Linked DNA regions of Homo sapiens: region 1 is linked to region 2. Evidence: fine-mapped expression QTL. A gene starts in region 2. The other region holds a variant in brackets. All regions are shown on one strand. Distances are from middle to middle.

Region 1 (11,610 bases), 25 kb before region 2:
GTAGGTGCTGTCTGGTTCCCTGGGGCAGGGAGAGGAAAATAGAAGCGTCAGTCCCCAGTTTGGGTGTCACCCCAATACCTCCCAGGCCCAGAGCTCAAGGCTAGCCTGAGACTCCTGGTGAGGCCTACGTCTCCTGCCCTTCCCATTCCCTCTCATCCCATCTCTGTCCTCCACCTGCCATTCCAGGGCTGCTGTGAGTGCCAGAGAGGCAGAGCCAGTCATGGGCTCTGTTATTCTGGGCCTCTGCTGGCCATGGGCCCTCTCCAGAGCTGGCCAGAGAAAAGAGTCTGAATTTTGGTCCTGCATCCCCAGGGAAGGCCTAGGGCAGCAGTCCCTCTTCCCTGCCCCTCCGACCCGCCCTGTCCCCAAGCTGATGAGGGTGGCTAAGGCTAGCCCAAGACTAGTGTGGAGCCACCTCTCCTGCTCTGGTCCAGTTAGTGCAGCAAGGGTGGTCGAGGCTAGCCCAGAATCCCAGTGAGGGTTGCCAAGTTTAGCCCAAAGTCTCAGTGAGGGTGGCTGGGGCTAGCCCAGAGTCCTCCCGGGGCCACCCCTCCTGCTCTGGCCCAGTTAGCCCAGCGAAGGTGGCTGAGGCTAGCCCAGAGTGCCTCCCAGGGGGGCCCCCAGCTCTGGCCAGCCAAGCGCACTCACAGAGAGCTCCAGAGGTGCTCAAACGTGGTGCCCCCATCAGGGGAGGTGGCGGTGGACTGGGCCATCTTCCCCACGCCGGCCTCCGAGGGCAGCTCGCTCTGCAGGAAGGAAGGAATGACACCTGAGCACCCTGGGAACTCGTGCTCTGTCCTCCTGTGACAGCCTCGGTGGGGGCGGCAGGCAAGTGGGCCTGCCTGGGGCATCCCTGGAGCAGGTGCCCCCGCCTTGCCCTCCCTGTGCCCTCTCCACTGTCATTTCGTCCACCCTGTTCCCCGCGGCTGGAAACCGAAGGCCAGGTGGGCAGCTCTGCCTTGGAGGTGGCGGGCCTGGATCAGACCCATCCGTGGGGGTGCCCTGGGCAGGCAGGAGCTTCTCAGAGCCGTCGCCTTGGAAGAGGGGGTGACAGCAACACCCGCTCCTGGGGCTGCCTTGAGGGCCTTCAGGAGAGCAGACTCTTTGAGATGCTTGGGCCGGGACAAGCGTGTGAGGCCTGTGGTCTGTTATGATCCACTGTGTCTAGGTTTGGCCTGGGGGATGCTTGGGCCGGAACAAGTGTGTGAGGCCTGTGGTCTGTTACGATCCCCTGTGTCTGGGTTTGGCCTGGGGGATGCAGCCAGGTTTGGGGTCTCCCTGATGCCCGGGACCTGGAGGTGGCTCCGGTCCCGGTCACCCCATCTTGGGAACAGCGTGTGTGAGGGCTGCGCTGGAGGCTGCAGCCAAGCCCCCGGCTAGAGCCTAGCTGTGCCCACTGCTGCAGGACACAGACGCCCCCTCGCCTTCTGAGCTGGGGCTCCTTCCTGCACCCCAGGGCCACAGGGAAGCCTGGCAAGGCTGGGAACTTGAAGCTGCCCTGTCCTGCAGCCGGCCACTGCCTGGGTGGTCACGCCTTGAGAAGGAGACACCCAGGGATTGGAGAGCTCTGACCCCAGCGCCCGTCCGCTGGTCTTTGTCTCCACCATTGCTCCCCTGAGAACCCCTGGGCCCAGCTCCCAGTGGCCCTGGACACCCATGAGGAGGTGGCAGTGTCCAGGCAGAGCACAGCTGGGGGAGGGGACAGGGAAACCCGAGCCCACCCTGCCCACAGCCCCCAGCCCCGGCTGAGGTGACCTCTCCCCTGGGCCAGCCTCCCAGGTCCTCGGTGAGGTGCTATGGGACAGGCTTGGCCACCGCCCTGCAATGCTCAGGCAGGCAGGCCTGGACCTGCCCACGGCCAGCGGGGGTGCAGGCCATGGCCTGGAACCTGTCGTTTTTGTCCTTCCCCAGGCAGGCGGGAGCTGATAGAAGCCTGTGGCTGCCACGTGCCGGGCCCTGGAGAAGTGGCACAGGCCAGGCTGAGGGGCGGTCCGTGAGCCATGATGGCCTGGGACAAGCAGCTTAGAGGGTGCTGGCCCAAGCCACCTCTCCCAGGTGGGCGTGACCGCTCCATCCACTTTTCAGGAGCCCCAAGGCTCAGAGGGGTTAAGTGACTTGTGTGAGGTCACACGGCTGTAAGTGCTGGTGATGAATGCTCCAGGGGCTCTTAGAATTAGAAGTTAATTTGGTTGCCCTGCCCCACCCCACTTCACCATCACGTGGCCAGGTGGGTGTGCCCTTGCAGGCCTCCGATCCTGGGCTGGGCTAAAACCCCAGTGGAGCTGAGGGTGTGCATGGGGACCGCACCATTCCGTTAATTTAAAATGGGAGAGTGTGACAGGAAGCAGAACCGCAGGTCCAGCTGAGGCTGGCACAGGGCCCCGGGGGAGAGCAGAACCCGCCCTTGCCCATACCCCACGGTGGGTCCCTTTGGGCTGAGCAGTATGAGTAGGGTAGCCTCTTGGTGCAGGTATGTGGGCCAAGGCTGGGTGGGCACAAGTGAGGGGTCCCAGGCATGTTTCCTGAAGGGCAGGAGCACTGGAGGGGCTGGACTCGGAGGAAAGAAATTCCCTTAGATCCAAGAGGACAAGCCTGGGAAGGTTTTGCCGCCAGAGGCCTCTGGGTCGCATCCCCTTCATTTTGTAGATGGGCCACCTGAGTCCAGAGATGGAAATGGACTTGCCATCCACAGCAGGTGGATGACAAAATCCCAGCTCCCTTCACAGCAGCACCATTCCTGGTAGCTGAACGGTGCACATAGCCCAGACGCCCATCAGCAGAGGGCCGGGCACAGGAGATGTGGTGCCAGCAAGCAATGGAACATTACGCGGCCATGAAAAGGAACGAAGCTCTGACATGCTACAGCGTGGGTGAGACCTGAAAACCTCATGCTCAGGACACATGACCTCATCTGTCAGCCTGTGAGCTGTCCCCTCCCAAGGCTAAGGTGGGACAAAGACAGAGAGAGACAGAGACAGAGAGACAGAGAGAAACAAGGACAAAGAGAGACAGAGACATAGAGACAGGGATAGAGACAGGAAGAGAGAGACAGAGAGAGAGAGACAAGGACAAAGAAAGAGAAAGACAGGAAGAGAGACAGAGAGACAGGGACAAAGAGAGAGACAAAGAGAGACAGAAAGAGACAGGGAAAGAGATAGAGAGAGACAGGAAGAGAGACAGAGAGACGGAGAGAGACAAAGGCAGAGAGAGACAGGGACAAAGAGAGACAGAGAGATACAAGGACAAAGAGAGACAGAGACAGAGACAGAGAGACAGGGACAAAGAGAGACAAAACAGAGAGACAAGGACAAAGAGAGACGGAGAGAGACAAAGGCAGAGAGAGACAGGGACAAAGAGAGACGGAGAGAGACAAAGGCAGAGAGAGACAGGGACAAAGAGAGACAGAGAGATACAAGGACAAAGAGAGAGAGAGACAGAGACAGAGAGACAGGGACAAAGAGAGACAAAACAGAGAGACAAGGACAAAGAGAGACAGAGAGTGAGAGAGACAGAGACAGGGAGAGACAAGGACAAAGAGAGACAGAGAGATGGAGAGAGACAGAGACAGAGAGACAGGGAGAGAGACAGAGAGAGATGGAGAGAGACAGGGAGACAGAGACAGACAGAGACAGACAGAGAAACAGAGGGAAAGAGAGAGGGACAGGGAGACAGACAGCGTGGGAGCCGACGGCATCCCGCCGCACCC[C/T]TACTGGAGGTCCAGGGGTTCCGTGAACAGGTGTGCACGGGGCATCCCTCCGCGCAGGGCTCAGGGCTCACAGGAACTGGTCGGCAAAACATGATTTGTGATCTTATGCCTGGGACATGGGCGTTGGCTGTATTTTCAAGTCGGCATCCTGTGAACTCCCCCTGAAGCGACACCCTCTCTTCCCACTGAACCCTGAATGAGGAACAGCGACCCTTCTTGTCAGCGCGCCTCTGCCTGCCGGAGACCCAGCTTCCACATCCCCTGACCGGCACCCACTGTGCACTGCAGGACACCAGCTTGGCCTCTCATCCCTGCCTGGGCACAGGACAGAGGCCAGCGAGCGTGGTCGTGGGTCCCCGATCCCACCCGTCCGGCCCTCCAGGCTCACAGGACAGGCCACCACCAGGAGCATGTGGGGTGGGAAAGGGGCTTCCTCCACGCCAGGAGTTGGGTCCCCAAACATCCCCAGGCCTGTTTGCCTGAGATGTGGGCAGTGGGCCTCCAGGTGCAGGCGTGTGGACCAGCCGGAAGCCCTGGGCAGATGCATCTTCCAGGACACCCCTCCCCACAGTGGGGCTGGGGCAGGGCCCAGGAATCTGCCCCTTTAACAAGCCTCCAGGGGAGTCATGAAGAGCCTGGGACAGGCCCCCTGAGGAGGACACTGTCATGAGGGCCAGCCTTGCCACTGCTCGGGGCCCTGCTGCAGCCACCGGCCTCCCCCATGGGAATCGGGTTCCTCATTAGCCAAAACCAGGACCCGGAAACCTGCCCAGACTTAAAGCACACGGAGGAACTTGAACCGGAAGCCACGAGATGCCTGATTCCCAACTTCCTGGGAAAACGCCAACGCTGGTAGCATTGGTCCCAGGGCCCCACAGGAACACTGCTCACAGGCACAGGCGCCAGGCAGGGGCTCCCCCAACCGGCCTCACACACCTGAGCTGATGACTGGCTCCGCAGGCATCTGGGAGTACTGGGCATGAGGAACAGGAAGCTCTGTTGGGGGTGCAGGGACGCTGCGCTGGGGCAGGGGGAGTATGTGCCCTCTGCCCACAGCCGCCTTTCAGGCAAGGATCCCAGTGGCGAGAAAAATAAGTCAATTCTAATAAAATGGCCTTTCAATTAAATCCAATTTTCCCAACCATTTGCCTTTTAATTTGAAAATTCGTTCACAAGGGGATCACGGTTCTGGGACAAAACAGAAATTGCTTTTGAAACGTTGCCAATAGTTTTAAAAATCATGTGTATCAATGGGGAAAGGAGACCAATTTCATAAGACATCTTTAGGAAGTTTTATCAACATCATAAAATGCAAATACATTATTGGAAGTGTAGGTTTTTCTAAGAAGATTTAGTCTAGGAGGGATGGGCTGGGTGCAGTGGTTCATAACTGTAATCCCAACACTTTAGGAGGCCAAGGAGGGAGGATTACTTGAGCCCAAGGGCTTGAGACCAGCCTGGGCAACACAGGGAGACCTCAGCTCTCCAAAAACTTAAAAAAATATTAGCTGGGCATGAGGGCGTGATGGCATGTGCCTGCAGTCCAAACCACGCAGGGTGCTGAGGTGGGAGAATCACTTGAGCCCAGGGGCTCGAGGCTGCAGTGAGCCATGATTGCACCACTGCACTCCAGTCTGGGCAACAGAGCTAGACCACAACTCTAAAAAAAAAAAAAAAAAAAAGGGAAGGAAGGAAATGAAATAAATGAGTTCTCAGTTGTAACAGGGGCGTCCAGTGTGTATTACCACAGGTCTTGCAGTGGAAGGCTTTGTGTGGCCACAGCATTTGGGGGTGGTCATTGGGGAGCTGCTGGCCGGCACCCCCCCAGCCCTGGCACCATCAAGTCAGGGCACAGAGTTGCAAAGGACAGTTGTGCTGGGTGTTCCTGGTTACGCTGTAGCCAGGCTGTAGGCTGCTGGCACACCCAGGAAGCAGGGCACCTCGACCCTGCCCCAACTTCCATGAGGCCTCAGACAAGTCCCCTCCCTTTGCCAGGCTGGAAAGGTGACCAGCGTTCCAAGTCCTACAGTGCCCACAGCAGTGGGAGCAGGACAAAGACCAGCCACCGAGGGCCCTCCGGCAAACCCAGACCTCAGCCTGCTTGGATCCTCAACTCCAGGGGCCGCTGTACCAGCTGCACCACAGGGAGAGCCCCCACACACGTGTGACTCAGAACAGGAAAGGAACTCACACCAGCAATTAGGCCCCCACAGCTTCCCCGGGACCCACGGAGCACAGGTGGGCTGGGGAGGGGACTGTGTGGCCCAGAAAACCAGCCTGCCCAAGCTCCCTGGAGCTGAAAACAAGGCTCTCTGATGACTTCTCGGTTTGACTCAGGGCCTTCTGAGGTCTCAGCCTAGGGGTTCTCACCAGGGGCAGTTCCACCCCCAGAGGATATTCCCATGTGGGGACATTTTCCACGGGGTCAGAGGGTGCTGTGGAATCTAGTGTGCAAGACAGGGATGCTGCTTAGCACCCTACGTTGCTCAGGGCAGCTGCCCACAGCAGAACGCACGCCCAGCTGTCGGGGCCGTGGCGGAGAGGGGGTGCTGTGCCATGGCTCCGAGCTGAGGCTGGCCAGGCACTTTGCAGGGCCTCAGGCTCACACGCCAACCCTGCCCCAGTTCAGAGATGAGCAAGTGGAGGCCAGGAGGCCCAGTGGCTGGCCCAAAGCTACTGAGGGCTGAGGAGCTGGGACTCCAGCCAAGCCCAGGTCCTCTGATGGCCTGGCCGCACCCGAATGCTCCCCTCTGCCCTGTGGGGAGGAGTCCGCAGCCGGTGAGGGGCTCTCAGCCTCTCTCATCTCACCCTGCCCAACCCCTCTGGCCTCGTCTTCCATAGCTTCCCACGAAAGCCACAGCCCCCTGTCCCCCTGCCCTGTCCCAAGCATTCCCTCCCTGTCCCCAAGCATCCCCTCCCTGTCCCCTGTTCCTCTGTCCTCTCCCTGTCCCCCTGTCTCCCTGTCCCCCATAGGTTCCTTCCCTGTCCCCTTTCCCTTTGTCCCCTAGCCCCCCATCTTCTATCCCCTCCCTGTCTGCATCCCTCTGTCCCCTCCCCATCTCCTGTTTCTCTGTCCCCTCCCTGTCCCTTGTCCCCATAGATCCCTGCCCTATCCCCATGGGTCCCCTCCCTGTTCCCTGTCCCTTTGACCTCTCCTTCTCCCATCCTCTGTCCCCGTCCTAGCTCCTGTTTCTGTGTCCCCTCCCTGTCCCCGTCCTCCTGTCCCCTCCTTGTCCCCCATCCTCTGTCCCTCCCCGTCTCCTGTCCCTCTGTCCTCTCCCTATCTCTTGTCCCCATGGGTGCCCTCCTTGTCCCCTGTCCCCAGTCCCCACATGCCTGGCTATGTGCTCTCTGTGTTCAGCCTTTGTCTACCACCCCCTTCCTGCCCTCCCATCTCATCCCTATCTCTCCAGGCCAGGCCAGGACCCAGCCTCCTCTAGGAACCCCGTCTCCGGCTGACGCCCCATCCTCTCCCCTCACCACCTGACAGGAGGTGGGAGACCAGACATTTCCTTGGCCATGGGCCCACAGGTAAGGCCTCGTCAGTTCCCCAACCCCTTCCACCTCTGCCCAGGCCTGGGGCAGACAGGGCTCCACAACCACCTTTGATAAGCCAGGACACTCCACCCCGACTGAGCCCACTCTGGAAGAGGCACTCCCCATGGGGACACCCACTCCCACCTGCAGGGGCCCTGGCCGCAGGGCTGCTGTTACCTACCCACCCCTCGGTGGAGCTCTGAGACCGAGCCGTCCGCACTCAGCCTGGGCAGGAGACACAGGCCCCTCTGCCCCGTCTGGCCCAGCCATCCCGGACACTGGCTCTTAAGGGGGATCACAGGAGGGGTGCAGGGTGTCCTCCTCCATTCAGGGAGGAGGGAAAAGCCCCCAGGAACTCCACCCGCCCCGGGCCACCCCTAAAGCAAACATCTCAATGCACTTCTGATTCCGGTGGTTCCCAAACCACCAATGATTTTACCTGTTATTTCAGCAGATCAACGATTCCAATCTGAAGTGGCAAAGAAACCTGGGGCCATTGTGGGAGGAGACACCTGGGCCATTGTGGGAGGAGACACCTGGGCCATTGTGGGAGGAGACACCTGGGCCATTGTGGGAGGAGACACCTGGGCCATTGTGGGAGGAGACACCTGGGCCATTGTGGGAGGAGACACCTGGGCCATTGTGGGAGGAGACACCTGGGCCATTGTGGGAGGAGACACCTGGGCCATTGTGGGAGGAGACACCTGGGCCATTGTGGGAGGAGACACCTGGGCCATTGTGGGAGGAGACACCTGGGCCATTGTGGGAGGAGACACCTGGGCCATTGTGGGAGGAGACACCTGGGCCATTGTGGGAGGAGACACCTGGGCCATTGTGGGAGGAGACCGTCTCAATCCCCTTGTGCCCTTTTCCCAGGGACTCAGGCAGGTCCCAGGACCCAGAACCCAGAAGAGCCCCCGCCTGGGCAGAGGGGTCGGGCGGTCAGCGCACCAGAATGAAGCCAGGCAGGCTGGCCCTGTGTGAGACAGCGGCTCTCCCAGGCAGCAGCCCAGCGGAATTCCTGCAGGGCGTCATCAGAGCCCAGCCTCCTGGGGCCCTCTGTGCCAAGGGGCCTCACTCTCCCCTCCAGCCACCGCAAGAAGAGGGGCCGCTCTCGCTTGGCAGGCTGGGGCCAAGGACAGGGGTCCCCCGGAGTGAGGGCCAGGAGGGCCTCCCTCTCAGGGGCAAGGCCCTCTGCCAGCATTGCCTGCCCCTCCCGACAGAGGCTAAGGACCATGTGGCCTCCCTCTGTGGGTACGATGGGGCCAGGTCCTTCAGACAGGGTTGCCAGGACGGCTTCGTCAGCAGGTCAGGGGCAGGGACGAAGGCCTGTCCGCAGGGCCTGGTGAGGAGGATGCGGCTGAGAGCCCCCCTCACCGCCACAGATGGCACGCCTGCTGCCCCACTCCCCTAGTTTGGGGAAGCCCAGCATGGGGATGAAAGACAAACACAGCCTCCCACGGTGGGGTAGCGTGCACCGTGTGAAATATGCGGACAGCTGGAGGTGCCTGAGCAAGCTGCCCTCTCTCTCCTGGGCCGTGGCCCACGGGAAGCGGGAGGGGAGGGGAGGCAGATGCCCAGGACAGTCTGGGGGAATCCCTGAGCCTCACCCCAGAAGCTTTGAGGCCATGACCAAACCAAAATGCCCGACCCCCCGTGGGTGGGGGTGCCCCCAACCAGCTTCCTGGGTCAGTTCACACTCAGCCAAGTGAAATGTAGAAACACCAAAGCATGGCTAATTCCCGGGGATTCCAGCCACCCCACGACGGCCCAGTGAGGCCACACACCTGTTACCAACCAGGAGACATGCACAGAGAGGGAAGACCAGCCCTCCATGGGCACACAGCTGGTCAGGGTGGAGGTCGAACCCAGCAGCCTGGCTCTACCCTGGCCTGACCTGGAGCTGAGCAAGGGAGGCACGGGCCCGGCTGCAATCCCCTCCCCAGTCCGTGTTCCCACCGCACAGCCACACCCCGCACCCTGCCTGGGAAGCCCCTCTCTGGAAATCCCCTGCCTGTCCATCTATCTTCACCGGTACATTGAGGCCCAATCCACATCCAGACATCCAAGAGGCCCGCCTTGTCCTCTGCTGCCTGCCCAGGCCTTCTTGCTGTCATATATGTGTTTGGGTCATACCAAGACACATGATTCCTGCCCCACCGCTTCGTGCCCTGAAGCCCAGCACTGCCGGGCACACACTCCAGTTCCCTCTCCTGCTCTGCCCACGCAGCCCACCTCTGCCGCGCTCTAGCTGTGTGACCTCAGATAGATGTCTTGCCCATTCTGAGCCTCTGTTTCCTTGTCTGTAAAATGGAGATAATTGTAGTGCCTCCTAGAAGCGCTAGGTGGAATGAAGTAACTCTACGCATATCAAAAGCGAAAGCACTCCTCTATCTGGGCACACCGTGGATGCCCCATAAACCGTATCGAGTTGCCATTGACCGACGGTTATTTAGTATCAGGTGGTGGCAGTGGAGGAAGAACCAATGAGGCCCGGGTCCCAAAGGCACCAGGCTGAGCGACAGAACTGCACACACGGGGGCGGAAAGGTGGGGTCTGCTGGCTGCCGGGTCCCTGGCTCCTTCGAGTGCCTCTCCATTTCATGGTCAGCACGCGTGTCTCACCCCACTTTTACAGTGGTCTCCGCACCCTTTTGCAGAGCACCAGCCTATCCTCAGTCTCTCAGGGAATGAGGCGTCCTCGAAACGGGTAGTGCCCAGTTGCAGCGGCAGCCGGTGCCAGCTCCATGCCCGGGGGCATGCAACGCGGTAAACAGATAACCCTGGCCCACTGGAGGCAAATCATGTATGTCTGTGAGGCCCTCAGAGGCTGGGTATGAGGAGGGTGGGTGGTGGAAGAGAAGTCTGCACCCCAGCCCCAGCTTGCTTGCGCCTTGGAGTGGGCGGTGCTCCTGGGGGTAAGCGGGTCAGGAGGGTTTGGAGGTGGGGTCAGAAGCATGAGCGGCCTGATGGGCTGAGCTTCCTCTAAGAAAGGGGTGGAAGGGGTGGGCAGGGACATGGCCCTTGGGGGGACGAGGTTGGCGGCAGGAGGGAAGTGGGGCCCTGTCAGGGAACTGGGGCGCTGAGCTTGGTGATGTTTCCTGCCAGGAGCCCACCTGTTAGAGGAAGGGCGACCCTGGCGGGGGTGGTAGGAGCAGATCTGTCACTAAGGGAGGTTCAGACCAGCACAGTGGGCACAGGAAGAAGACCCAGAGGACCGACTGCCAAGGATAGGGGGTGAGGGGTCCAGGGCTGGGACAGAGCGGAGCTTATGGCCAGAGTGGGTGTCTGAGTCGATACCTGTGTTCACAGGTGATGAGTACAGCGCTGCCCTCAGCAGGGCAGGTGACTGATGGGGCCGCAGCCGCCTTCGCTGGAGCTGCCACAGCCTCGTTCTGCACAGACACATCCCTGTCCTCTGCCCCCTCCGATCCTCCTCTCACACCCCCTTTCTACCCCAAGGGATCACACCGGGTGTCACTAGCCTTTGTGCGGCCAGCGCCCATGTTGGAAGTGCCTGTGCTGTCCTCCAGAATCTTCTTTCTTTCCCCAGAGAAGCACTTCCACTCCTCCAACCAAGAGAGAATGACCCTTCTCAAGCTGCTGTCCCCACCTGGCCACCCTCCTCTGGACACCCTTGGTGGGGATGCTCCACTCTGAGATGTCCCCACCCTACACATACCCCTCACCCCTGGCTCTGGGCTTTTCTCTAAGGGGTCTGGGACACGCCCGCTGCACCAGTGGACATGTCTCCCTGCTGACCACTCCCTACCCTGCGGTCTGAGCAGACGTGCCCTTCCAGACAGCTGTCAACTCCCTGAACTTGTCATGCGTCCCTCTGAGTCCCGCCCTGACTCAGTGAGCAATCCTCCCTCCTGGCGTGTTCCCTTCCTGTTCTGGAGTCAGCCGCTCAGCCCTGTGACCTCCCCTGCACAGTGGTGGCCGCTCAGCCCCGTGACCTCCCCCGTGCAGCGATCACGGGGGTCCACCCACCCCTCACTCCTTCCAGAGGCAGCCACTGCTGTTCCTCAGAGTGGCTGTCCGCTGGCTCTCAGGGTTGCCTTTCTGATATTGCTGCCCAGCATTCCCTGTGCCAAATCCTCCATATTTTCAAGCTCATTCAATCCTCAGAGGAACCCAGCGGGAAGTCCCCAGGTGTTCCCAGAGGCCCCGAGAGGGCGAGCAGCCTGCCCAGGGCCGCACATCTCAGAAGCACCACAGCTGGCTTAGGCTGGGCTCCGGTGAGCTCCACCTTCCCGCCAGGCAGCCCGTCCTCTGGAGGCCCCGGCTCCTGCAGGGCAGACAACGATCCAGCCTTTGCCCCCGTCACGAAGGGGGCTCCCGACGATGGCTGGGTCAGCCCAAGAG
Region 2 (11,821 bases):
GCACCGCTCCCATCTGGTTACTGCTGAGTCTCCTGTTTTTATGGCACTTCCGGGCGGGGGCACAGCCTTAAAACTGTTGTCTCTTGTGAGTCTGTCTTTTGTCAATCGTTTATTGACAAGAACCCCGTAGGGAAGAGGGAGGCAACTTTCCCTTCCCCTCTCCACAGCTTGCTCTTTGGGGAACCCGATTTAATCTCCAAGGCCCACGGAATCTTCCGGCCACTGTCCATCCCTAATGTGTCCCCCATGTCCCCTCCACGGTCCCTGCTCCATGAGACCTGCCTTCCGTGCCCTTGCTCTGGCCCCAGCAGGGCCCTTCCTGCCACCTGGTCTCTCCAGGCCTCACTGGAGGCCACCACTGGGACGGCGTCTCCTCTCTGTCCAACTCCCTGAGAGGTGCCTCTCCAGACCCTTCCGCGCAGACCGATGTCCCCCGACCTTCTGTAGCACCCACGGCCAGGTCCAGGGCTGGGGCCCGGGTCTCGCCTCTCCCGGTGGGGCTTCTTGTTCAATACCTCTGGTTTCTGTCCCTAACTGGGGGCTATGCGGCCCAAGCAGTCCCCAGGTAGAGGAGCTGCTGGAGTGTGTGGAACAGTCTGTTTTCCAGGATGCAGGGGCTGTGGAGGAGGCGCCAGGCGGGAGGTGCTGGGGGAGAGGGGGGCTGCCCATCCCCGGCTGTGCCCAACCCCGACCTTCAGTGTCCGGGTTCCAAGATCCTCGTCCTGAAAAGAGGGGCGTGGCTTAGACCAGGTTTCTTCCCCGTTTGCGCCATGGCCCCTCTGGCAGCCTGGGGAATCTCAGACGCCTTGTCCGGGAGAATGTTTTAAATACATGAAGCAAAATACACAGGATCACGAGTTACTGAAACATAGCCACTCTAGTGGGTTGGATGCAGCCTCTGGGAACGAGCCTCAGAATGGGATGTTATTTGGAATCAGGGTCTTTGCAGATGCCACTTAGGTAAGGGTCTCAAGATAAGATCATTCTGGATTTTCCAGGTGGGCCCGAAATCCAAGGACAGGTGTCCATCTAAGGGACAAAAAAGGAGAGACACACAGGGACACAGAGGAGAAGGCCATGGCAAGATGGTGGCAGAGACTGGGTGGTGCATCTGCATGCCTGGGAACCACAGGATGGCCGGCAGCCCCCAGATCCTAGGAGGGAGACAGGAGGCGAGCCCCCTCTCAGAGCCTCCGAGGGAACCCGACCCTGCCCACACCTGGCTTCAGATTCCTGCCTCCACAACCGTGAGACAACACTCTCTATTGTTTCCAGCCACTTAATTTGTGGTCATTTGTAACAGCAGCCTGAGAAAACTTACAAAGTGACCCTAATATTTAAAAAGCAAAACTGGGAGGTGATCATATGTGCGCTTCTTTGTTCATACATTAAGTCGTAAGCCTGAGAGCAGATCTAATCACCGCCATAATTGCAACGGAGCGACAAGCACAAACCACTTTTTAAGATGCTGCAGCTATTACCGGACACCATGAAAATATCAGTGGTTCCCACTGGTGAGGTCACAGGTACTGCTATGACTGTAGTTTGCTGCCTACATTCAAAACTAGAGGAAATGCTGAAATTTGCTTTGAGGTTAATACAAGGTGCCATTTTTCCCCATCCAGGCTCACAGCACCCTGGACTCTCTACCCCTGGCTTAGATGTTCTGGAAGGGCCCTTCCGGCCTGAATGTTCCACGGTCCTAGGTGTCTGGGGGCCGTGTCTGAGCCAACGGCAGACCCAGGCAAAGGATGGTTTGGCAGCCCCAGTCCCAGCTTCGTGGTCATAGCTGGAGTCCCCACTCCCGTACTTTGCAGCTGTGTGACCCTGTGCAAGTAGAATAGCCAGTTGAAGCCTCAGTTTCCTCATCTGTAAATGGGCATAATTATAGTATCTACTTCAACGGGCTATTGTGGGGATTACAGGGAAAAAAATGTAAACTTTTTAGCCAAGTACCAGCTCACAGCCACCATGGGCTAAATGTGAGTTATTACAGGAAACATTAAAAAACAAGAGTTGGGCTGGATTATCTTTTTCTTCTTTGGGTCTGTGATGTGCAACTTGTCCAGGAAAAGAAAGCACTTTGGATGAGCGAGTGTTTAGCCTGCAAAGAAATACTGAGCACAGAGTGGACTGCCAGGGGGCAGGCAGAAAGTCTGTAAACATGTGCATATGTCTGTCTGAGCCCACTTTGGTATAAGCTGTCTTACACTCAAATGCCAATGAGCAGAGGGATTTTTTTTTTTTTTTTTTGAGACGTAGTCTCGCTCTGTCGCCCAGGCTGGAGTGTAGTGCGTGATCTCAGCTCACTGCAAGCTCCGCCTTCCGGGTTCACGCCATTCTCCTGCCTCAGCCTCCTGGGTAGCTGGGACTACAGGTGCCCGCACCACGCCCGACTAATTTTTTGTATTTTTAGTAGAGACGGGGTTTCACCGTGTTAGCCAGGATGGTCTTGATCTCCTGACCTCGTGATCCACCCGCCTCAGCCTCCCAAAATGCTGGGATTACAGGCGTGAGCCACTGCGCCCGGCTGAGTAGAGGGAATTTTTAGAATAAAATACCTTCTGCACGACCCACAGAGAAGGATTTTCGAGGCATCCTGTGTAACCCACTTAAGAAGGCAAACTTCTAAGAAAGCCATTGTGTGTTTTCATTATACACGAGTGGATGTTGCCAGCTACAAGTGTGTTTTGTGTATTTGTTAAAGGAATCTGGGCAGAACATGGAAGTATTAAATACTGGTAGGAGTAAGTGATCACTCAGCCTACTTACTGGTGATAAAACATTACATTTAGAAAACTTTCACCACATTCAGATACAAATAACACGGGAATTCAAAAGAAAAGTAGGCGTTATTGTCATTTAGTAACTCATCTCAGCTTTTTTCTTTTTTGCTTTTAAAGCAAAATCACGAGGAAATAACATACAGATATCTTAAAAGGTTGCCTTAGCCCTCCCCACACTGGAAAACAAAGGCAAGCCGCAAAATGGCAGCTCGTTACATGAAACACACACCAAAAGTATTTTTTGCGTGTTTTTTTGAGACAGAGTCTCGCTCTGTTGCCCGGGCTGGAGTGCAGTGGGGTGATCTCGGCTCACTGCAACCTCTGCCTCCCAAGTTCAAGCGATTCTCCTGCCTCAGCCTCCTGAGTAGCTGAGACTACAGGCACCAGACACCACCCCCGGCTAATTTTTGTATTTTTGGTGGGGACAAGATTTCACCATTTTGCCCAGGCTGGTCTTGAACTCCTGATCTCAAGTGATCCACCCACCTCGGCCTCCCAAAGGGCTGAGATTACAGGCGTGGGCCACGGCGCCTGGCCTTAAAGGATGTTTTGAAGACTTTTTCTGACTTTTTGCAAACACAGGGTTCACCGTGTACGCGATGTCACTTTGGTGTGCTCGGAATCTCAGGGTTAATACCGCCGCTGGGCAAGGGCAGGGCCTCGTCCGGGTTCTGGAGTGGGTGTGCGGCTCCTCTCTCGGCCCTCAGCCTCTTCTCTTCTCTCCACTTTAGCCGTGCCTTTCACACGTGCTCAGTGTTATCAATCCATTCTTGGACCTGGGTGGGGCATGCCCTATAAATAAATACTAAACCAGGCATCCTTGCCCCAGTGCATACTTCTGACAGATGCCATCAGCTTCCACCCACGCCTTGGGCAGATGCCTGCCTCACTGCCATCCCTCCTGCCCTGGAGATACCTACCAGATACTAAGGAGCCGGGTCTCTCCCCAGGGCTCCTGGCTCTCCCAGCTCTGGAACAGCACCTGGGACCCGAAGCCATCATGTGTGAGGACACTGAGTGGGTGCCAGGCACTCTCCCAAGCCCTTCGGACGGCACCTCACTGACTGTTCTCCAAGCCTCTGAGGCAGGAACTACTATTACCCGACTCTGCAGATGGGTAACCTGAGGCTCCAAGTGGTTAAGTGACTTGCTGGAGTAAATGGGGAAGAGGAGATTTGAACCCCAGCATTCTGACTTCCATACTACCCCATTAACCACTGTGCCAGACCAGCTTCTCCATGCGACTGGCCTTCGGGATTTGGAGACAGCTACTGTTCGCTGTAGCTTTCACGAGAAGGACTGCAAGGCAGGGCTCACATCCCGAGCCATTCTCTGGTGGCCGCCGCGCATAGACAAGCCCCGCTCAGGTCCGCCTTCCGTTCACCCCAGGCTACCTCTGATTGACAATAGGCAGCTGCCACACTGCAGCCTCTGACACCAACTTTTATCTTATTTCATCTTATTTTTTGAGACAGAGTCTTGCTCTGTTGCCCAGGCTGGAGTGCAGTGGCATGATATCAGCTCGCTGCAACCTCTCCATCCCAGGTTCAAGCAATTCTTGTGCCTCAGCCTCCCGAGTAGCTGGGAGTACAGGTGCCTGCCACCATGCCCAGCTAATTTTTGTATTTCAAGTAGAGACTGGGTTTCACCATGATGGCCAGGCTGGTCTCGAACTCCTGACCTCAGGTGATCCACCCACCTTGGCCTCCCAAAGGCTGTGAGGGATGACAGGCGTGAGCTACCGTGCCCAGCCAACTTTTTATCTTATTTTAAAAACTACATACGTAATGCATACATTCATATATGGCAACATTTCAAACACCGTGTCCTGTTCTTAATGAAATGCTTTTTAATCTTTCCCCGAATAAATCCAAAGAGGGGTGGCTCAGCGCTCAGTAAGTGCCAGAGGCCACGCGCTTTGTTTACTCCTCCCCCAGAGCTAAGGCTGAACAAATAAACAGCAATGACAGCAACAAAAAACAAAACAACAAAAACCAAAGCATTGTGTTAATGAGCCTGAGCCATTTCCAAATGTCCAGACAGTGAATAAACAGATGGCAGCATCTTTGGAAGCAAATGACCTCTGGTCAGAAGTTTGGGGTGCATTGCTTTTCCCTGCACCCTTGCTGGTTGAAGATCGTCTATCTGTCCCCTGTTTATGTAGCAGACGTGTGCATACTACATGGGCTTATCTCCTAGCGTCCAGGCCAAAATACAAGCTGAGCAAAGGTAATCATCGCTCCCCAAGTCCAAGCCCCGGGAAAGGCAGGGGCTGCAGGAGGAGGCGGCCCAGGAGCTAAGGGGGCGTGAGGTGTCTCCCTCCAGGCCGGCCCGGGCCATTTCTTCACGGGCTTTCTCTACCTGGGACCGCTCCGGAGACAGGCCAGGAGCCCTCGACAGACAAACTCAGAGCCACAGGGAGCTGTCCCTCGGGAAACCATCGAAACCGCTTAGTAACCAACTCCATGGGTCAAGGCCCCCGCCCAGATCCTTCTCCCTGTCCAGAGGGGGGCCTGGCCCTGGCTCCTCAGGGAAGCTGAGGCCTCGGGATTGGCACAGCCCTGCAGGTCGGAGGGAGCGCGCGGGCGGGGAGGAGCTTGCTGGCGATTTCCACCTGCACCCGCGCCCCGCACCCCGGCCTCTTCCCGGGGTTACCCTCCCAACGGCCCTCGGAGCCCGGGGTGGAGAGGGGACAGCAGGAGGAGGGCCCTCCCGGAACCCCTGCGGGGCTGTCTTTGGCGCCAAAGGCGGCCGGCGCTGAGGGCAGGACCCGCGTCTCCTCGCAGGCTAGACTCTGGCCGCTCCAGCCTCTCGCGAGCGCCAAGTCCCAGGGGCCGATCCAACTCCGAGGGAGCCCCTGTGTCGCCTTGTCCCAGCTCGTCCCCGATCGCTCTCCCCTCACCTCCCAGCTTCGGAGCTGCGAGCCCAGGTGCCTGCCCAGCGCTGCGCTCCAGCCCCCGCCCGCGGAGCCGAACCGCCCCCCGGCCCTGGGCCTCCTACCTGCAGCCGTCGCAGCCCCGGGCATCGGCGTCCGTCCCGGCTGGCCTGGCGCGGGCCCCGGTTTCGCTGCGTCCCCTTCGCGGGCGCGCGAGCCTCCGGGCGGGTGCGCGGGCGGGGAGGCAGGGCGGGCTGCCCGGCCCCTAGGCGGGTTATATGGGCGCGGGGAGGGGAGGCGCCGCGGGGAGTAGGCGGCCGCGGGCGTTAGCGCCTTTTTAGCCCGGCGCGCGGGAAGGCAGCGCGGGCCACCGAGTCGCGGCGGGGCCAAGGTCTCCTCCCGGCGCTCCGCCTCTCCAGCTGGCCGCGTCCAAGTCGGGGTCCCGGGCGCGCTCTGCCCCGCCTCCTTCCCGCCGCCTTTTGGCGCGCGTCGCTCCTGCAGAGCCCGGCGAGGCCGCCCACGCAGGGCCGAAGCAGGTCCGGCGCCAGGGCCCCTCCCGCGGGCCAGACCCGACCGCGATCTTCGGCAGAGCTGGGGACGCCGGTGCCGACTCTGTGCCCGACGCCTGCGTTTCCCCCGGACTCCCTGCTGTCCCCCAGACGGCCCATCTTTCCTGACACCCGGGTCTCTCCTGGCCGCCGCCACTAGCGCTGGGCTCCTCGGCGCGCGGGGCGCTTGGAATCCAAGGGGCAGGGGATGTGGCCGGCGGGGAACAGGGGTGAGGGGCGGGGAACAGGGGTGAGGGGCGCCGCCCCAGGCCCAGGAGGAGGGGAACGGCTGCTTTCCGCCAAGCAGGGCTTGCCACCCACTTCTCCTGTGGAGCCACGGTCCCGCCCGGCAGAGGATCCCGCGGAGAGCCTCTGGGGGCTGCTCTCCCAACCCCAGCCGGAGTTTGGGCCCCACGTCCTTCCAGGGGTCACCCAGGACGCGAACACTCCCGGGCGGCGGCCAGCACCCTGCTCCCTCCCCCGGCCGCCGCCTGTGGGCTCGGGCTCTGGATCCCGTTCGGTGTTTGGAAGGAGCTCGCGGGCGTCGGTGCGCTTGGAGTTGTTCTCTGCGCGCACCAGACCTGCGCTAGGTCAGGCCGAAGCTCTCTACCGGCCAGCGACACCCGCCGCCCCGCCCGCCTGCTCCTCCTAGGCCATCGGGGCTTCCAGGGCCCTCGACCACGTACACCAGGCCCTGGCTAGGGGACCCGACATGCTGGGCGAGTTCCGAGCGGCTCTCAGTGGCGGCGCTGCTTATGGTCTGATGCTTATGGGGCCCGTGATCTGGCTCCGAACCGATGTCCTCTGCCCATGGTGACCCCCACGTCTTGGAAAGTCGCGTCAGTGAAGCCCGTGGCTTCGCGAGCGAGCCGGGCTGGCGCAGACTGGGTTCTCTGGCCGCAGCGGGTCCGCGCCTGACGGGGAGGGTCCGGCTGACTCGCACATCTTCATGGCTCACCCACTGTTTGCTGGGCGCACGGGGTGGGGACCCAAAGACGAATCCCATGCAGAGGTTTGGGTCTAGTTTTGGCAACAGAAAAGGCCGGCACCGCCGGAGTAGGACGCGCGCGCACCACCATCCATTCGGCCGGGGAGGTTGGGGCGTCCGCGGGGAGCAGACCCGAGGCTGGGCGCCCGGAGGTACGAGCAGGACCCTGGCCGGCTCTCAGCTCCCAGAACCCAGGGCCAGGCGGGGATGTCAGGGTCTGCGCGATCTGGGGGGCCCTAGAGGCGCCGGCGGGGCCTGGCGCGGACTACTAGCGGCCTGCGGGAGCCAGGGGTGGAGGGGGCCGCTGTCTAGGGAAGAGGACCGGGGTCCGGAGTGGGGGTGAGAACGAGGCACGCCCCTGAGCCTGCGAAACCTGCGGACCGAGCGCCCGCGCAGGAGCTCGCTCCCTCTGGGCCCCCAGGTCCCAGACCCGCACGATTCTTCGCCCGGTGCCAGCCCAGATGCGCGCGGGTGATGAACGGGCGGTGGCCGCGATCCACGCGCTCGCTCTGCCCAGTCAGCGGCAAATTCGTTCTCTCCTTGATCTCAGTGGCACTGGAGCGTGAGGCAAGGGCCAGGCGGCAGGTAGAGGGGTCGGACTCAGCAAAAGCAAACAAAACCCCAAGCAAACGAAATAAATACTTATACATTACATACACGATATAATATATGTGCGACAGACACCGTATTACTTATTAAAGATATATTTGTAGGTAAACATATATTTACATGTAAACATACATTTACATATAAATATAAATATATATATATGCATGTGTACACACACGCAGACACACAGGTCGCTCAATTAAATTTGAATTTCAGACTAGCGAGTAATTTTTCCGTATTAGCATGTCCCGTGCAATATTTGGGAACATACTTATAACTAGATTTGTTGTGAATCTGAAATTCAAATTTTACTGTGCTTTCTACATTTTTATCAGCAGCCCTAGCTGGAGGTGCTCAAAGGCCTCCCGGCCTTTGAGGTAAGGTTCTCGGGTCGGAAATCCCTGGTCGGAAGAAACGTGGGCGTTTCCTTTAAAGCCCTGCGGCACAAGAACTACAAGCCCCACAATGCCGCGCGGAAGCCGGCGGCGCTGATAGGCTGCAGTTCACTTCCGCCTTCTGACTTCCGGCCTCGGAGGCCGGCGTCGGCTGTTGCAGCCTGCTGCGCGCCCAGGGGTCCCGCGGGTTTTCGGGCGCAGGGTGGCGCCCGCGGCAGGCGGCGGCCATGAACTTCTCCGAGGTATTCAAGCTCTCCAGCTTACTCTGCAAGTTCTCCCCGGACGGCAAGTACCTGGTGAGCGGCGGGGACCTGGGCCACGGGCAGGACATCCTCGGTGCCAGCGTCCCCGGCGGGCAGGGCCGGGGGCGGCCGCGTGGGTGGAGGCAGCTTGGGGATCCTGCAGGTGCGGTGCCCGGACAGGTGCGGGGCCCGGGCAGGTACCCGGGGCAGGTGCAGTGTCTGAGCAAGTGCCCCAGACAGGTGCGGGACCCAGGAAGATACCCTAGACAGGTGGAGGGCCCGGGGAGGTGCCCCAAGCAGGTGCGGGGCCCAGGCAGGTACCCCAAGCAGGTGCGGGGCCCAGGCAGGTACCCCAAGCAGATATGGGGGCCGGACAGGTGCAGGACCCCGGCAGGTGCCCGGGCAGGTGCGGGACCCAGGAAGATACCGTAGACAGGTGGGGGGTCTGGGGAGGTGCCCTTGGAAAGGTGGGTATCGGCAGTGCCGACTGCACACAGGTGAGGGTATAGGAGATGTCGGCTCTTTGTTGTTACTTTGTCACAAAAGGCAAATTGATGATTCTGTTGCCTGTAAACTGGTAAGTGGTGTGGCTACTTTGTCATCTCTACTTCTCCTCTAATTCTCTTCTCCTCTACCACATGCCGAATAAATGATTTAAATACTAGTATTCTATCCCCAGGTAAGGAAGTAGTTGTCCTCATGGCTGGGATTTGAGGTCTTCGTTCCATGGGTGGCAGAAGGGTGCTTAAATCACAGAGCTATAACTTTAAGCTTCAAAACATATAGTGTATGTACCTGGATGCCTAGTAGTGTATATCCTCAGAAGAGAGGGATAACCCGGATGCCTAGTATGTATGTCCTCAGAAGAGGGGGACAATTGGCATTGGAAAGCCACTAAGAAGAAACATGCCTCGTAAAAAGTGGGCTTCGTTTTCCTTATCCACCACCTGTACTAACTGACTGATGTATCATGATGCTTTTTCAGGTTTTGCCACTCCTGACATTCCTGTGCTCTGTCTAGCTTTTGAGAGTTTAACTCTCAAATTACGTTTTTTACCTCTTCAGGGAGGTTTTATTCCAAATCACATAAAATAGCATCAGCTACAAAACAGAAAACCTCATTAGTTTAAATGGCATCTCAGCCTTGGTATATTTTCAATGTGCCCCCCTCCTCAATTAAATGAGAGGTTTGTTTTTTGTTTTTACCATTTATGAAAATTTCAGTGAATTATAAGGAGAAAGATTACATCTGCTTGCTTAACTTGGGTGTTTTTTTCCAGCTTGTACACTCTGGTCAAAATACCCTGAAACACTTGGTAATGATCTGTTACTGGAATCATCTTCTTGAAAGCCCTGAGGACTGGGGAGAGCAGGTCCATGTTTCTAGTTTTCATATCTTGCAGTAGAGTTTATGTGGTTCCTCAAGGTGTTGGTAAAAATATTCCATTTCATAAGGAATTCACTGTAACTGATCACAGTTTTCAAAGCTACAGTGTGAGAAAGTAAGTGCTGTGGTAGCTCCTTGTTCCAATCTGCCGTCACCCGCCTGTCTCTCTTTTCTCCCACGGAAAACTAACGTGGCTTTCTTTTTTGATATCGGTTCATAAAACACAAACTACTTTGACCTTGATAAGTAAAACTAACGAAGCAGTTAATATTTAAACATCAGTTCTTGATCTTGAAACTGTAGTAAAATATACATTCAGCAGGTGAGTACTCAGGCGTTATTTTTACTTGAAATTGTTTGCTTGGATAGGGACATAATGAACAAATATGGACAAGAAGAAACTATCTTTAAGAAAATAGTACTAACACTTAAACATTTCCCGTTTCGTGTTAGGAATAGGTTAATGGAGATAAATGAGCATTTGCGAAGCATCTTTATGTGTGCAGAAGTGAAAGCCTGTCTTTTGATCTTCTGTTGTTTTGGCTCTGAGTTCGGCACTGCATAAGAAGATTGATGCATTCCTTGCCATTTTCGTTGTCATCTGTGAAGCCTCAATTCTTACCCTTTATAAATTTGAGGAAATTGTCCAAAAGTGTTTATAAAACTAGCAGAGGATTTTGGTTATTAGTTCACAGAAGAGCTTTCTCCCAATGCTACTTCCCATTTAAGTTTAGTTTTTAACATACAGATAAGAAGGGACTTAAAAATGTCTTAAAGCTTTAAGTAGCGAGTTAAAACATACTTTTATACTTTACAATAGAGTATAGCAATATTAAAACCTGGCTTGTATATTTCAACATTACCCTTGTATGAACTGAACTGATCTTTAGGGGCTGGGGATGTCACTGGTGATCTAGACATGAAACCTCTGGCAGGAGAGAAGGCCACAGTCACTGAAGGCCAGGGCAGTAGCATTCCGAAGGCCCCCCTCTTTTGGAGTGGAGAATGTCAGGTGCTTGCTTTCTCATATTTTTTAGGCTTCCTGTGTCCAGTACCGGTTAGTGGTCCGGGATGTGAACACCCTTCAGATCCTTCAGCTGTACACGTGCCTAGACCAGATCCAGCACATCGAGTGGTCGGCAGACTCGCTCTTCATCCTGTGCGCCATGTACAAGCGAGGGCTGGTGCAGGTGTGTGCTGCCGTGTCGCTTAGAATCTGGACACCTTCTGAGGGCCCCTGGGAAGGAGGGGTTTTGTTCTGTGCCTTTCTAGTTTGAAAAAAAAGTCCGTGCAGCTCAAAGCCAGTTTTCTTTTGAAATTATAACGTTCTCTAAAGTTTAAGAACATTTAAACTAAGGAAACTCCAACGTAGTCTTAATTTCTAAGCAATATAGTTGAGAAACGGAGGTGTTGACAGCAATCTAGCCACGCGGATGTGGTGTGTTTCAGGAAGTCCTAAGAAGTCGTGTTTTCTTCTGTGTCCAAAGCTTAACTAAATGAGGTCTTAGGAATGACAATGTGAATAAACAGTTTTAAAACAACAACGAAATGAAATCACCAAGAAGCGTGGCTTACTTTTACACTGGAATCCAGCACCAGCCCTTCATCATGAAAGGTTCTAAAAGACACCCTGTGTGATCGGGTCTCTGCTGGTTTTAAGGGAGTTGTCTCTCGGCGAGGCCTCGCTATAGACTGCTGATGAGTTTGAAGACACCCTGTGCGGTCGGGTCTCCGCTGCGTTTAAGCGAGCTGTCCTCGCTGTCTCTCGGTGCTGATGAGTTTGCACTTGTGTGTTTCTTTCTTCTCTCAATCCAGGTCTGGTCTTTAGAGCAGCCCGAATGGCACTGCAAAATAGACGAGGGCTCAGCCGGGCTGGTGGCCTCGTGCTGGAGCCCGGACGGGCGCCACATTCTCAACACCACGGAATTCCATGTAAGTGTCAGCCCCAAGACACCTTACTGGCCATGTGATCCTGTCCTCTGCTCTCGAAA

What was found.
Region 1: its variant is fine-mapped to the expression of TP73 in whole blood (TOPMed, PIP above 0.99). The same link has a PIP of 0.9 or more in blood mononuclear cells.

What each region holds. Positions count from the first base shown.
Region 1 is chr1:3,671,469-3,683,078 of GRCh38, reverse strand. It overlaps TP73 (tumor protein p73), which reads right to left. Exons shown (of 14, transcript NM_005427.4): 2 at 649-746; 3 at 1-19. The coding sequence starts at 713. Among named protein-coding and RNA genes, the nearest start is that of TP73-AS3, 8.3 kb to the right of the region's middle. RefSeq lists enhancers at 1,655-2,390, 9,151-9,370 and a silencer at 2,680-2,847. The variant C/T (reference allele first, on the strand shown) is at 3,707.
Region 2 is chr1:3,646,607-3,658,427 of GRCh38, reverse strand. It overlaps TP73 (tumor protein p73), which reads right to left and starts at 5,912. Exons shown (of 14, transcript NM_005427.4): 1 at 5,787-5,912. It overlaps WRAP73 (WD repeat containing, antisense to TP73), which reads left to right and starts at 8,325. Exons shown (of 12, transcript NM_017818.4): 1 at 8,325-8,497; 2 at 10,868-11,020; 3 at 11,646-11,762. The coding sequence starts at 8,429. RefSeq lists enhancers at 1,200-1,299, 1,380-1,459, 7,261-8,104 and a silencer at 5,352-6,301.